Homo sapiens: one gene and its partner. The protein of the gene in region 2 interacts with the protein of the main gene of each other region in a pairwise test. Each region holds a gene or a part of one and is shown on either strand. Other genes may lie near its edges.

Region 1 (7,452 bases), on a different chromosome or scaffold from region 2:
TACAGAATTCCTAGGTACCATATGCAAGCATGCAAGATCCAGAGGAAGAAGACATAGTCTTTTTTTGTAGGTTTCTTTTAAAAGTGAGGAACATCTTCCTAAAAGGCACCAAGCCAGGTTTCCTTCTGGTCTCAGTGGTCAGGTCTGTGAGACCTGTCCATGCCTAAAGCAATCCCTGGCAAGGGGAATGGGACCACTACGACTGACTCTGCACGTCAGGCCTTACCCCTGTGAGCTGAGATTGGACTTCTTTTCCCGAGGGGATTCTTGAATTAAAGTCCTTGTTTAGTTAACAAGAAAGAAGTGAGTGATGAATGTTAAGTATGCAATAAGGTCTAATATTTGGGGCAAGAAAGATGAATATTTGCTTGATCCTATTCTATGCCAAGGACTTTGCCTGGATTCTTTCACTTAATCCTTACAGTAAACCAAAGAAAATAAAATGAAGACATTGTCATCCCCATTTTGCTGCTGATGAACCTGAGGCATAGAGAAGTTAATTAAATTGTTAAAGGTCACATAAGAGTCAGTGATAGCCAAGGCAGGCAGATCACCTGAGGTCAGGAGTTTGAGACCAGCCTGGCCAACATGGTGAAACCCTGTCTCTACTAAAAATACAAAAATTGGCCGGGTGAGGCGGTGCGTGCCTGTAATCCTAGCTACTCGGGAGGCTGAGGCGGGAGGATCGCTTGAACCCGGGAGGCAGAGGTTGCAGTGAGCTGAGATCATAGCACTGCACTCCAGCCTGGGTGACAGAGTGAGACTGCGTCTCAAAAAAACAAAACAAAACTTGAACTTGGTTGCATACATTTAATTTTATTTATTCCACCCCCTTCCCTGAATTTGAAATGTTAAAAGTGTCTAGTTGCTTAACATGACATTTTGAATTTTTACAGATACAATTTTCATGAGCTAAATTTTAAATTCACAATATTTTAATTAAAAATGCTACCAGGCTAGGCATGGTGGCTCACACCTGTAATCCCAGCCTTTTTGGAGGCCGAGGTGGGAGGATCACTTGAGCCTAAGAGTTCATCAAGACCAGCCTGGGCAACATAGTGAGATCTTGTCTCTACAAAAAAAATATAAAAATTAGCCAGGCCTGGTGGCATATGCCTGTAGTCCCAGCTACTCGGGAGGCTGAGGTGGGAGGATTGCTTGAGCTTGGGAAGTCGAGGCTGCAGTGAGCCAACATGGCACCACTGCACTCCAGCAACAAAGTGAGGCCCTGTCTCAAAAAAAAAAAAAGCTACCAGAAAAATATGCAAATATCATTATGCTGCTTTTAGGAAACAAAATCACAATTCTTCCTTCCTTTATTTATTTATTTATTTATTTATTTTCTGAGGCAGAGTCTCCCTGTGTCGCCCAGGATAGAGTGCAGTGGCGTGATCTTGGCTCACTGCAACCTCTGCCTCCAGGGCTCAGGTGACTCTCCTGCCTCAGCCTCCCGAATAGCTGGGACAACAGGCATGTGCCATCATGCCCAGCTAATTTTTTTATATATTTTCAGTAGAGATGGGGGTTTCACCATGTTGGTCAGGCTGGTCTTGAACTCCTGACCTCAAGTGATCTGCCGGCCTCAGCCTCCCAAAATGCTGGCATTACAGGCGTGAGCCACCTCACTCGGCCCTTTCCTTTATTTATGTTTTTTTTGTTGCTTAAAAGCAGTGCTTCCATTTCATTATTTGATCATGGCTTTTAAAATTATTTTATTTATTTATTTTTTTAAGAGACAGACTCTTACTCTGTTACCCAGGCTAGAGTGCAGTGGTAAGATCATAGTTCATTACAGCCTCAAACTTCTGGGCTCAAGTGATCCTTCCACCTAGCCTCCTGAGTAGCTGGGACCACTAGCATGTGACACCACATTGGCTAATTTTTTTTTGTTTTTTGTTTTTGTTTTTGTAGAGACAGGGTCTCATTTTGTTGCCCAGGCTGGTCTTGAACTCCTGGCTTCAAGCAATCCTCCCACCTCGGCCTTCCAAAGTGCTGGGATTACAGGCGTAAACCACCATGCCTGGCCTAATCATGCCTTTATAAAAAAATCATTTTTTTTTAGAGAAAAGGTCTCACTATGTTGGTCAGGCTGGATAGGAACTCCTGAGTTCAAGTGATCCTCCACCTCAGCTTCCCCCTGTGCCCCACTCAATCATGCCTTTTTATTATAACTGATTCTGATGGTATGCTGACAGATATACAAATTAATCCAGTCCTTTGGAGCTTAAAAATAATACAATGAAAAAAATCATTTTTATGGTGTGGTGCATCATAAAGTTTATTTATTTATTTATTGAGACGAAGTTTTGCTCTTGTCGCCCAGACTGGAGTGCAATGGCGCCACCTCGGGTCACTGCAACCTAGGCCACTCCGGGTTCAAGCGATTCTCCTGCCTCAGCCTCCCGAGTAGCTGGCGCACGCTACCACGCCCAACTAATTTTTGTAGTTTTAGTAGAGGCGGGGTTTCACCACGTTGGCCAGGCTGGTTTCCAACTCCTGACCTCAAGTGATCCACCCGCCTCTGCCTCCTCAGGCGTGAGCCATCGCGCCCGGCCAATAAAGCATTTTAATGCATTTTTCCTCAAAGTATTCATAAACTTCAACTTGTTCTAGGTAAAATTATTTTCCCCTTTCTACCCACAATAAAATGAGTAATTTAAGCCCTTAACCTACACATTATTCTTACCTTGGAATATTTAATAAGAGCTGCGCTAATATTATATCTGAATAATGAAATAAGAGAAACCAAATAAGAAAAATTTGTCATAAAGCCCTATTCTCCTACATTAGATTATGTGCATGGCACACACACGGATCAGCTTAAGCTGGGTGAAACTATATGGAGTTAGAATTCCTGGCTTCCTATCATTCAGTAGCTGTGTGGCCGAGAAGAAGACTTTAATGTTGTAGGACCTTTAAAATGGGCTGTAACTCAAAGGCCCTCCTTCTGGAGTTGTTGTGAATCACGTGGGGTAATATATACTAGTTTACAAGATGGATGTGTAAGCCCGAAGGTGGAGCAGGTTTGCAAGCCTTCTTTCAGCCTAGGGACAGTAGGATGACTCATGAGTCAATTCTTCTCTCCTTCCCGTCATTTCGGGTCCAACTCTTCCTCCTGTAGTCCACAAAAGAGCACGGCTGACCGATACCAAGCAGAGAACCCAGTAGGGTATGTGACCACGTTCAGATCAACAGAACGCAAAGCAGAACGGTCCGAGTACTGCCTCCTACAGCCACTTTCCTTTCTTTAAGCCTCAGCTGCTGCTCTAGGTGTAAAACCGGCATAAAATAGCACTACGTACCTTGCAGAGTTGCTCGGAGGATTGAAGGAGATAATGTAAGAGAGTTTGGCTAGTTTGGCTATGATGGATGGACATTTTCTCTTTTCTAACGTCTCTCTTCCCCTCCTAATGAAACCTCTTCTGAAGCTCGCTAACTATAGCAGGGCTTGCAGCTTCAAAAAAACCTTTCAGTCAAGATCTTGAAATTAGTATTATTTAAATCAGTGCAGTAACACCAAGGTGTAAAAGACTGTTACCCACTGGTGGCTTTAAGAGGATTAGCTGACTGAAGAGTTTTAGAAAACATGGAAACTTTTTTTGTACGTGGATGGATGGAATTCCCTGATCTCCTTATCCCCACCACTTAAACCATGCCTTGTGGGTGACCGTGGAAGGCTGATTGTGGCGGGGACATTTACAAAGCACATTTAATTGATAAGCACTCGATTGTTCTGTAACTATAGAACTAGTTCACCTTTCAGTTGCACTGAGTGCGCCTAAGATAACGATCTTATTTGGAAGTGAGCCCTCGCTAGAAAGAAGGGGAAAAGGGTAAGACCGAAGCTCAAATGAATGACCAGAAAGGATGTTTTCATTCGAATAAACTCAACCCAGTTTTTGACCTCCCCACCCATCTCTGCCAACTTGAAATCCTCCTGGAGGGGCGAGCTGCTGGGGTTCAGGACTGGGCGTTGCGGCTGCAGGAAGCCGTGGGACCTGGGGGGTCCCTCGGCCGGGCAACCCCCACCCACCCCTACAGGACCCTGGTGCGGGGGCGAGCAGGGAGTGGACGCAGAGAAAGTTCCCCGCTCTGCTCCCGCCCTCTCCGAAACTCGAGCCAGCGAGGCTGGGGGCGGGCGGACGGCTCGCAGAGGAATTTGCAGTTTCCGGGAGGTTGAGGAAGCGACCCGAGCACAGCCCCAGCAGACGCAGCCCTAGCGCCCGGCTTTCCGGGTTCCGCGACGCTGTCGGGAGAAACCCGCGCGCCTGGAAGGGGCGGGCCGGGCTCCCCCCACCTGCGGGCGGGCGGGGAGGGTCGCGGCCGCGCGGGGTGGGGCTCGGCCGGTCGCCCGTCCGGGGCGGGGCCCAGGGAGGCGGGGTCGCGGGCGCACCGGGGCCGAGCCGCGCCTGGAGCCTGGCGGGGAGGCGGCAGGAGGGGCCGGGAGAGCCTGATTGAGCGGCGGCCGCAGCTGCATAAGGACTGCCCGGGGCTGCGCGCCGGGAACCTCGCGGGGCTGGCGGGCGCCGCACCCCCTCCCTGGCCGCCTGCGCCCCGGGGAGGCCGCCCGCGCGCGACGGGACCGGCAGCATGAGCAGCGGCTACAGCAGCCTGGAGGAGGACGCCGAGGACTTCTTCTTCACCGCCAGGACCTCCTTCTTCAGGAGAGCGCCCCAGGGCAAGCCCCGCTCCGGCCAACAAGTGAGTGGCGCGCGGCGGGCGCTGCAGCCCGCGCCCCAGAGTTCCGGGGAACCCGCCAGCCCGCGCCCCCTGCCTCCACGTGTCTCTGCGGGGCGCTCGGGGGATGCTCGCCGGGAAGGAGGAGCGGGCCGAGAAGTGGCTTCTGCCTTTTCGGGTCCCGGGAACGTGCCTGGAGCTTGTGCGTGTAGGCGAGGGAAGGCGGAGGAAGGGCGGGGAGGCTGAGGGCCGGCTTCTGCCTTCCGCGCCAGATGGCCTCTGCAGCTCCGCCTCGGGCTGCCGCCTGCGGGGAGCAGCCCCGGAGCCAGCAGGCGTCCCCGGGCCACTCCCCCAGGTTTCCCCTTCGCGTCCCCGCTGGGTCGACGGTCGGGTTCGCGCGCCTGTCCTTCCTGTTAGTCAGCTTACTCATCTGTGGCCCCCAGAGTGGCTTGGGTCAACGTGTAATAGCTAGGGGTGGCCGGGTGACCTGACCTCCCCTCTTCCTGGCCCGGGCGACCTGGTGGAGTGGGGGTCCAAGGGCACCGTGGGCCTCGCCACCATAGGCTCTCACTAAATCTCCGTTGCGGGACTCAGGGTTGTGCGTTTTCTGTAAAGCTAGGTTTTTTGGTGCCCAGATGTTTTGCAAACAAGCTCCTATGCTAAATACTAGCCAGCGACAGCTAACCTTTTCGCCGGTTTCTTCCTTTTTTGGAGGCAGCATGCCGTGGGAAGCACGAGTTGGGAAAAGATGGGAAGGGAACTTGTGCCAGTTTCGCCAGCTGTAGCCGTGTTTTTTGGGAGGCCTTCCCGAAACGGGGCACGTCGGCTGGACTGAGGAGCCCGGTGCTAGAGCCCGCGGCCTCCTGGCACTAGGAGCCGCACCAGGGGAGCCGGGCCAACCCGGCCACGCTCACATCAGATTACAGAAGATTGTAATGGCACAAATTTGTTGCTTTTAGAAAACAGGCGTTCGCCAAACATTTCTATTAATACCGGACTGAGACCTAGAGACTAGAAGCAAGAAGAATCGTTCAGGGGCCGGATGATAACTTCTTTTGGTGGATGTGGGAGGGTGCAATCTGTCAGGGTGGTCTTGCCAGACCTCTTAAGTTTAGCCACTTTCTGAAGTAAAATTCTTTCTAAAATTCGGAAGTTCTAGTCTTTTCAGGCTCTTAAGTCCCAAACCAGGAGGAGGAGAGGAGACGGTGAAGGGTAAGCTGAAGTCAAGTGCCCTTATTCAGTAACCGCAGTTAATCTCAAGTCCCGGTGCCATAGTTGTCCGTCTTGTATTGTTTCTAAGGCTTAAGGCCCCACTATTTACGAGTCACTTTGAGTGGGATCTCTTACTTTCAGCAGAGTGTGTTCTGAGAGCATGAGATTGCTGTGAAGTTTGGAAGTTGGAAACGCCCTCTCCTCCCCCATGCCCACCCTCCCTGGGTTGTAGAAAAATTGCATTTGCTTATGCTTTTTCCATTTTTGCTTTCTCTTTCTTGGCCTCTCTCTTCCCCTTCTCCGTTTTGCATTTTCTCCTTTCATTTATGTTGCTTTCACCACTTGACATGAAAAGGAACTCATGGTAGTTTGAAGTTTATTCCAGAGGTGTCTGCTAATCTCCTGAAAACTGGCTGGTTCTTGGATTCTCCAGGGGTGAGATGCCACAAGGGCCAAACTATTCAGGTTTGAATTGTATGAGAATCCTTTAGTGCTTTAAAGAGTAAAGACATCAGTTTTTTTCTAGGTTTATATGCATTTAGCGTTTCTTTTTTTTTTTTTTTTTTTGAGATGGAGTCTCACTGTGTTACCCAGGCTGGAGTGCAGTCGTGTGATCTCACTGCAACCTCAGCTTCCCTGGTTCAAGCGATTCCCTTGCCTCAGCTTCCCGAGTAGCTGAGATTACAGGCATGCACCACCACATCTGGCTCATTTTTGTATTTTTAGTAGAGATGGGATTTAACCATGTTGGCCAGGCTGGTCTCGAACTCCTGGCCTCAGGTAATCTGCCCGCCTTGGCCTCCCAAAGTGCAGGGATTACAGATGTGAGCCACCGCCCCCGGCACATTTATTGTTTCTATGTTGTATGCAATCATTTATGTATCATCTAGCATATATATTATACTCAGGGTAGTATTATTTAGCATTTAGAATTAGTCTAACATTAATATGTATTTTGAAATATCGTGTTGGAAATCAGGACAGGAAGACATAGTTCGTGGTTGAAGAGCTTCATATGTGTATTTGAAGCTTTATTGCCTGCATATTTTTCCCTTCTAACATAACACATGTAAGGTGCTGAGTTGTAGAAGTTATTTGCCAGGCAGAGAAAGTGTTCTAAACTACGAATTTTAGTGAGCATTGTGGTTTATTTAAAGAAGTGATATGAATGTTTTAAATTCCTGGTAAGATTGGTGAATTAGGGAAGTAAAACATCATAAATATAAAGCAAAACACTCTTAATGTAGAATGTTCCTTTTATCTAACGTTAGATAAGCCTTTTTCTTCATTTTCATGCTGATGATTATAAGAATAAGATAAGCACTTCTGACATACATCATAGTAGTGAAATTTATCCTTTCTCTAGAGAGATGGAAAGAGAGGTATTGCTAGAAGGATCTATTAGAGATACAGTGATTTTTTTTTTTTTTGGATGCTGTACCACCTGGTGGAAAAGTGAGAAAAATGAGGTTTCTAGATTTCTTGAAAATATCCGGAGAAAACAAGATGTTTGTGGTAAATGCAGAATGGGGAGAAAGGGGTGAGGGAGCGGGTGGACTGGAA
Region 2 (7,083 bases):
CGGCCAGCCTCACAGTAAAGGTCTGAATAAACCACTGGTCCCAGCCAGCCACCTGCAGCCCTCTGTCCGGGCCACCCAGAAGCTTCCATCTTCCCTCAGCCCCTGTTGCCCCGTGACTCCAGCGTTGCCAGGCTAAGTTTAGCTGTGAACTGCATGGGCCGCCCCTCTCTGTGGACAAGGGCAGAGGTGGAGAGGAATTCAGCAGGCTTCCTGGCAAGCAGACAGAAAAAAGCCCGCCAAGTGACCCAGGTTTATTCTCAAAGCCAAACCCACCAGCTGATGTCTCAGACCACAGGTGCGGGAGAGCCTGGTAGAGGTGAGAACTTTGGGCCAAGGCAGAGGTGGACATCCTTGGAATTGGGAGTAGGGGACTCTTTGGGGAGGCATGTGCTGGTATGTGCAAGAACATGCACACATATACACATATCCATGGTTTGTGAGAGGCTCCTCACTACCCGTCCTGTCTCAGAATGTCAGAATGCCCTGTTTCCTTCCCTTTTGTGGACAAGTCAACTCTATACAATATTTGAAGGGATTTATTCTGAACCCATCTGAATGACCAAGGCCTGAGGCACAGTCCCAAGAGATCCTGAAAATATGTGCCCCAGACAGTTGGGTTACAGCTTGATGTTACACATTTTAGGGGGACAGAAGTTACAGGCAGGCCAGGTGCTCACACCTGTAATCCCAGCACTTGTGATCCCAGGCAGATCACTTGAGGTCAGGAGTTCGAGACCAGCCTGGCCAACATGGTGAAAACCTGTCTCTACTAGAAATATAAAAATTAGCCGGGCATGGTGGGGCATGCCTGTAGTCCCAGCTACTCAGGAGGCTGAGGCAGGAGAATTGCTTGAACCTGGGAGGCAGAGGTTGCAGTAAGCTGAGATCCCTCCACTGCACTCTAGCCCAGGCGACAGAGTGAGACTTAGTCTCAAAAAAAAAAAAAAAAAAAATTACAGGCAGACCTCCATCAATGCATGTGTAAGGAATATGTTAGTTTGGTGTGGAAAGATGGGACAACTTGAAGTGAGGGCAAGGAGTGGCTTCCTGGTCATAGGTGGATTCAAAGATTTTCTGACTGGCAATTGGTTGAACGAGTTAAGTTATTATCTAAAGACCTGGAATCAGTAGAAAGGAGTGTCTAGGATAAGGGGTATGGAGACCATGGTTCTTACTATGTAGCTGAAGTCCCAGGAAGCGAGTTTCAGAGACAGGAGATGGTAAGTGTCTGTCAAACCTAAAAAGGTGCCAGACCCTTAGTTCATCTCTCCTGGATCAGGAAGAGGCCTGGAAAGGGAAGGAAATTCTGTACAGAATGTAGATCAGACTCTTAGTTCATCTCTCCTGGATCAGGAGAGACCTGGAAAGGGAAGGAGATTCTGTACAGAATGTAGATTTTCCTGACAATAGGCAGCTTTGCAGGGCCATTTCAAAATATGTCAAAGAAATATATTTTGGGGTAAAATACTTTGATTTCTTTCAGGGCCTGCTATCTCATATGATGCTATATTGGGTTGAAATTCGGTATCTTATTGCTACAGAGTCTGTTTTGTCACTCCTAGGATCTCTGTTTTAACGTTAATGCTGTTCAGTTGTGCCTGAATTCCAGAGGGAGGAGGGTATAATGGGGTTTGTCGGCTCCTCCTTCCCATCATGGCATGAACTGGTTTTTAAGGTTTATTTTGGAATCCTCTTGGCCTGCAGGACATTCTTCTGACCCCTGGGGTCCCCAGGGCAGTGTTTCCTGTGACTGGGTTTGGGAAGGGGAAGTACCAGAGGCTTCAAACTGAACCCCATCTGGTGGGCCCTGAGCGACCACAGCCCTATTATCTGCCTCGGCCTGTCCTATCCCATAGGGTGCTGCAGACAGAGCCAGCCTGTGCAGAGTTTAACAGGGAGCCAAATGACAGCTGGGATCCGATCCGGGGAAGCGGGGAGATGGATTACGTGAGAAAGTGAGTCAGAGGGAACCCCTGACCTGCAGGAGGATCCCAGGCTCTGAAGCCTTCTCCCCTTTGCTGGGGGCCAGGGTGGACTCAGGGGTGTGCCAAGGAGGAGAAATAGCAGTGGAACATCTTGTGCTTTCAGAGCACTTTCGAGCGTGTGTTTACTCCCCATGCCTGGGGCTCAGGCAGGGCTGCTGTGCTCAGCAGGTGAGAAAGCAGAAGCCTGTAGATGCTGAGGAGAGGAGCCTGCCCTGTGCCAGGCACGGTGCTAAGCACCCAAGGTGTATGATCTCACTCACCCGTCCCAACATCCCTGTGAAGGAGGAAGTGTTATTAATTCCTCCTCACAGGGAAAGCGTGGGAGCGCAGAAGCTGTGCGATCCACCCACAGTCACTCAAGGTTAGAACACAGGTCTGCTGGGTCTACAGCCCAGGCCCCCTTTCCTTGCAGTCCTTCCCCAGGCTGGTGCCCTGTTTCCCTGGTGCTTCTGTTGAGTCTTGTCTGTAATCCTACAATTACCAGTGCTACTATGCACTGCCTACATCCTGCCAGAGTTCCTTGTAGGGGCGTCTGCGGCGCACTCCGCCCTGAACCCCAGCAGGCAGGGTCATCTGCGTATTTCCATCCCATCGCAGTTCCTTTCATAAGAAAACTTGCTCAGGAGCAAGCATGTTGCTGAGTGCTTTACATGCATTATCTTGTTCAAGCTTTATAACAGTAGATATGATTATTCTCATTTTACAGATGAAGAAACTGAGGTTCTGGGAAGTGATTTCTCCGAAGTCACCTCCAGTAGGTGCACATACTGGGTTCTGACCCAGTCTTGTCTCCTCTCGAGTCTATCCTCTTTTCCTCTTGCACACAGAGTTGGTCCCTTCAGTTGGTTTGGAGTTCTGAACCTTGCCTGTGCCAGTACAAGGAGGCTCTTACAGCTCCTCCTCCTCTGGCAGGAATGAGGATGTAGCAAGTAGCACCATGAAGTGTGGCGTAGACACAGGGATGGTTCCCAGCCATAGGGCTTGGCCGTGGCCCCACTCACCTGTTCGTGGCATCCTGCACTGAGTTGACAAGGAACCTGGGTAGGTGGTTGTCCGGGCTATTACTGTGACTGGTCAAGGCCCACTGTGTCCAAAGGTGGCTGCCTGTGATCCAGGCAGCTTGAAGGACCCTAAAACCCCCCAAATTATCTCCTAACTGGCTGCTGCCTGATATTCTGCTATGAGTACTCTCCACCTTTATGTTAACTTTCTCACCCATGTTAATCACCCAGCCTCGCAGTTAGTTATGCCTTGGACCCTCCCTGGCAAAACTTTCCGTTGATGTTTCTCTAATGTAGAAACCAGGCTGACCTGTTTCTGCCATTATCCAGCAAGCTGCTCCTTGGCTTGGGGAAGGAAAGCTGGCTCGCTGCCCCCTGCACTTTTTCCTTACCCCACCCACCTTGCAGTGTGACTTCTTCCACTTCATCCTGTCCCCGCTTTCCTCCTCCAGTGGAAACCTGTAAGTGCTTCAGTGCTCACCTCTGAGGCCCACACTGAGAATCCTCAGGGTGGAGGACGGACCTTCTCCACTCCCCAACCCTTGTGGTTCCTGCAGACCTGTCCAGCTGTGTATGGGGTGGAACTGTCTGAGTCACATCTGAGCAGCAAGTTTGTCTAGGCGTGACCAGCAGCCAACTCAGTCCATCTCCATCCTGCCACTTGCCAGGGACAACCTGCAGAGGTATCTTTACCTGGGGACAAATCCCTGTTCCTTGGCACCATTAGGACAAGAATTTCATTGTGCAAATTCCAGGTCGGGCTCAAGCCAAAGGGAATGGGGCTCAGGTTGGCACAGTAGCTCCTATCAGCCAGTGTTAGTGTGCACTAGGGGGTGGTAGAAGGAGCCCTGTGCTCTCAACAATCTCAGGACCTCAACTGATTTGCATTTGGCCATTTGCTTCCTTCATCGAGGTCCCAAGCAAGGAGGGGGGTAGTTCAAGTGTGGAAATAGCAGATTGTTAAGTCCCAGGATTCCTGCTGAGGAGAGGAGAGGGTGTAACTAAGTCTTGCAGCGTAAGACAGTGCCTCTCAGATTTTTATATGGATGGTATTAAAATGTGGATTCCGATTCAGTAAGTGTGGGTGGGGCCGAGATTCTGCATTTCTAACAAGCTCCCAGGAGATACTGCAGCTGCTGGTCCGTGAATCATACTTCGAATTGCAAAGATTGTAGGGATTAGCCTTTCTCCAAAAGTCACTTGAGGCTTAAAAATCCACTTATCCTAGGGGAACAGAGTGCCTCCTTTCACAATTAAGAAGTTAGATTTAAAGTTCACATGCCTGGTAAGAAGAAATTAGTGATTCTTTGCTCTCTGGTCATCATCAAGATTGTCCTGGGGAAAGACAAAAGCCAGGAGAGTGTGTCTGAATATGGGGTAAGGTCTTCCAGGTCAGAAAGAGACGTTTACAGAAGAGGAGGATAAGGGCTCAAATCTACTTCCGAAACAGTTATTGTTCAGTGAATATGTGCTTTGCACTGGTCACTGGGCCATGCAGTTTGCAGGGATCATTGCGTCTCTCAATACCATGACCCTGTGAGATACTATTGCTTTCCCCTTGTGCAGTAAGGAAACCAGGGCTCAGAGAGGTGTGTTAACATGCCCAGGGTCACACAGCTTTTCAGTTGACAGTGCTGGTTTGGAACCTAGCCCTTTCTCCCTTAACCACTAGGCTTCACTGTATTGCAGGAAGATGACATTCACTTGGGAGAGAAGGGGATATGTTATTCAGGACTATTTTGATTTCAAGTGGTGGAAAGGCCACTCAAACTGACTTAAAAAGGGTTTCTTTATTGACTTGTGTGACTAAAGAGCTCAGACAGCAATGCCTTCAAGCAGAGCTGAGTGTGGGGAGGGGGGGTTCTGCTTTCCTCTATGTTGGTGTCTTTCTCAGGCGGGCTCCCTTCCCGAGAGCCCACTGCAGGTATAATCCTGTTCCCTCAGCAACCTAGCAACCAAACTAGCAACAGGATGAGTCTTTCTTCCTATTGGGCCCAACACACCCTACATCTGTCTCTCATTGGCCCGAATTGGATCAAATGCTCATCCCAGAACCAATCGCTCTAGCTGTAGCTGGGCGGCAGAATGTCTGATTGTCTTGGGCCTGGGTTTTGAGCCCACCCCAGGAGCTTGGAGGTGGGTATATCCTCGCCCTGGCCATAAGGACTGGTAGGAGAAAAGGGTTAGGGACAGTGGGGTGCTGCTGCCATCCAGGAATGTCTGGGTAGGACTAAAACAGATGTCCACCCCAGGGTAGGCCTTTGGGGCTCTTCCATGGCTGGACTGAAGCTCCTGAGGCAGCCGCAGGGAGCTCTCGATGGGTTGGGTGGGAGAACTAAGACCTTAACCAGCCCTGAGGGGCTGAGGTTGGTGCGGGGCCCAGGGACGAAGTGGCATTGAGGGAAGCTTGGTGTGACCATCTGTCTCTCTGTTCCCAGGAAAGCTCCAACCATGGCCATGGGGCTCTTCCGCGTGTGTCTGGTGGTGGTGACGGCCATCATCAACCACCCGCTGCTGTTCCCGCGGGAGAACGCCACAGTCCCCGAGAACGAGGAGGAGATCATCCGCAAGATGCAGGCGCACCAGGAGAAGCTGCAGCTGGAGCAGTTGCGCCTGGAGGAGGAGGTGGCTCGGCTGGCGGCCGAAAAGGAGGCACTGGAGCAGGTGGCGGAGGAGGGCAGGCAGCAGAACGAGACACGCGTGGCCTGGGACCTCTGGAGCACCCTCTGCATGATCCTCTTCCTGATGATCGAGGTGTGGCGGCAGGACCACCAGGAGGGGCCCTCACCTGAGTGCCTGGGCGGTGAGGAGGATGAGCTGCCTGGGCTGGGGGGCGCCCCCTTGCAGGGCCTCACCCTGCCCAACAAGGCCACGCTTGGCCACTTTTATGAGCGCTGCATCCGGGGGGCCACGGCCGATGCAGCCCGTACCCGGGAGTTCCTGGAAGGCTTCGTGGATGACTTGCTGGAAGCCCTGAGGAGCCTCTGCAACCGGGACACCGACATGGAGGTGGAGGACTTCATTGGCGTGGACAGCATGTACGAGAACTGGCAGGTGGACAGGCCACTGCTGTGCCACCTTTTCGTGCCCTTCACACCCCCCGAGCCCTACCGCTTCCACCCAGAGCTCTGGTGCTCCGGCCGCTCAGTGCCCCTGGATCGCCAGGGCTACGGCCAGATCAAGGTGGTCCGCGCCGATGGGGACACATTGAGCTGCATCTGCGGCAAGACCAAGCTCGGGGAAGACATGCTGTGTCTCCTGCACGGCAGGAACAGCATGGCGCCTCCCTGCGGCGACATGGAGAACCTGCTGTGTGCCACAGATTCCCTGTACCTGGACACGATGCAGGTCATGAAGTGGTTCCAGACGGCCCTCACCAGAGCCTGGAAGGGCATCGCCCACAAGTACGAGTTCGACCTGGCCTTTGGCCAGCTGGACAGCCCGGGGTCCCTGAAGATCAAGTTCCGTTCAGGGAAGTTCATGCCCTTCAACCTGATTCCTGTGATCCAGTGTGATGACTCGGACCTGTACTTTGTCTCCCACCTTCCCAGGGAGCCCTCTGAGGGCACCCCAGCCTCCAGCACAGACTGGCTCCTGTCCTTTGCTGTCTATGAGCGACACTTCCTCAGGACGACACTAAAGGCACTGCCCGAGGGCGCCTGCCACCTCAGCTGCCTGCAGATAGCATCCTTCCTGCTCTCCAAGCAGAGCCGCCTGACCGGTCCCAGCGGGCTCAGCAGCTACCACCTGAAGACGGCCCTACTGCACCTCCTACTCCTCCGGCAGGCCGCCGACTGGAAGGCGGGGCAGCTGGACGCTCGTCTGCACGAGTTGCTGTGCTTCCTGGAGAAGAGCTTGCTCCAGAAGAAGCTCCACCACTTCTTCATCGGCAACCGCAAGGTGCCTGAGGCCATGGGACTCCCTGAGGCCGTGCTCAGGGCCGAGCCCCTCAACCTCTTCCGGCCCTTCGTCCTGCAGCGAAGCCTTTACCGTAAGACACTGGACTCCTTCTATGAGATGCTCAAGAATGCCCCAGCGCTCATTAGCGAGTATTCCCTACATGTCCCCTCAGACCAGCCTACCCCAAAAAGCTGACG

Evidence for each region. Proteins that work in one complex are often made in the same cells at the same time.
Region 1: the proteins of ITPRIP (region 2) and RASSF3 interact in binary tests that used the Homo sapiens proteins (3 or more experiments, as listed by UniProt).

What each region holds. Positions count from the first base shown.
Region 1 is NC_000012.12:64,606,043-64,613,494, forward strand, and holds the start of RASSF3 (ras association domain-containing protein 3), read left to right. Parts: upstream 1-4,452; 5' UTR 4,453-4,590; coding exon 4,591-4,701; exon of another isoform or gene 4,702-4,804; coding exon of another isoform or gene 4,805-4,879; intron 4,880-7,452.
Region 2 is NC_000010.11:104,314,406-104,321,488, reverse strand, and holds part of ITPRIP (inositol 1,4,5-trisphosphate receptor-interacting protein precursor), read left to right. Parts: intron 1-5,424; coding exon of another isoform or gene 5,425-5,437; coding exon 5,438-7,081; 3' UTR 7,082-7,083. UniProt on the Homo sapiens protein: Enhances Ca(2+)-mediated inhibition of inositol 1,4,5-triphosphate receptor (ITPR) Ca(2+) release.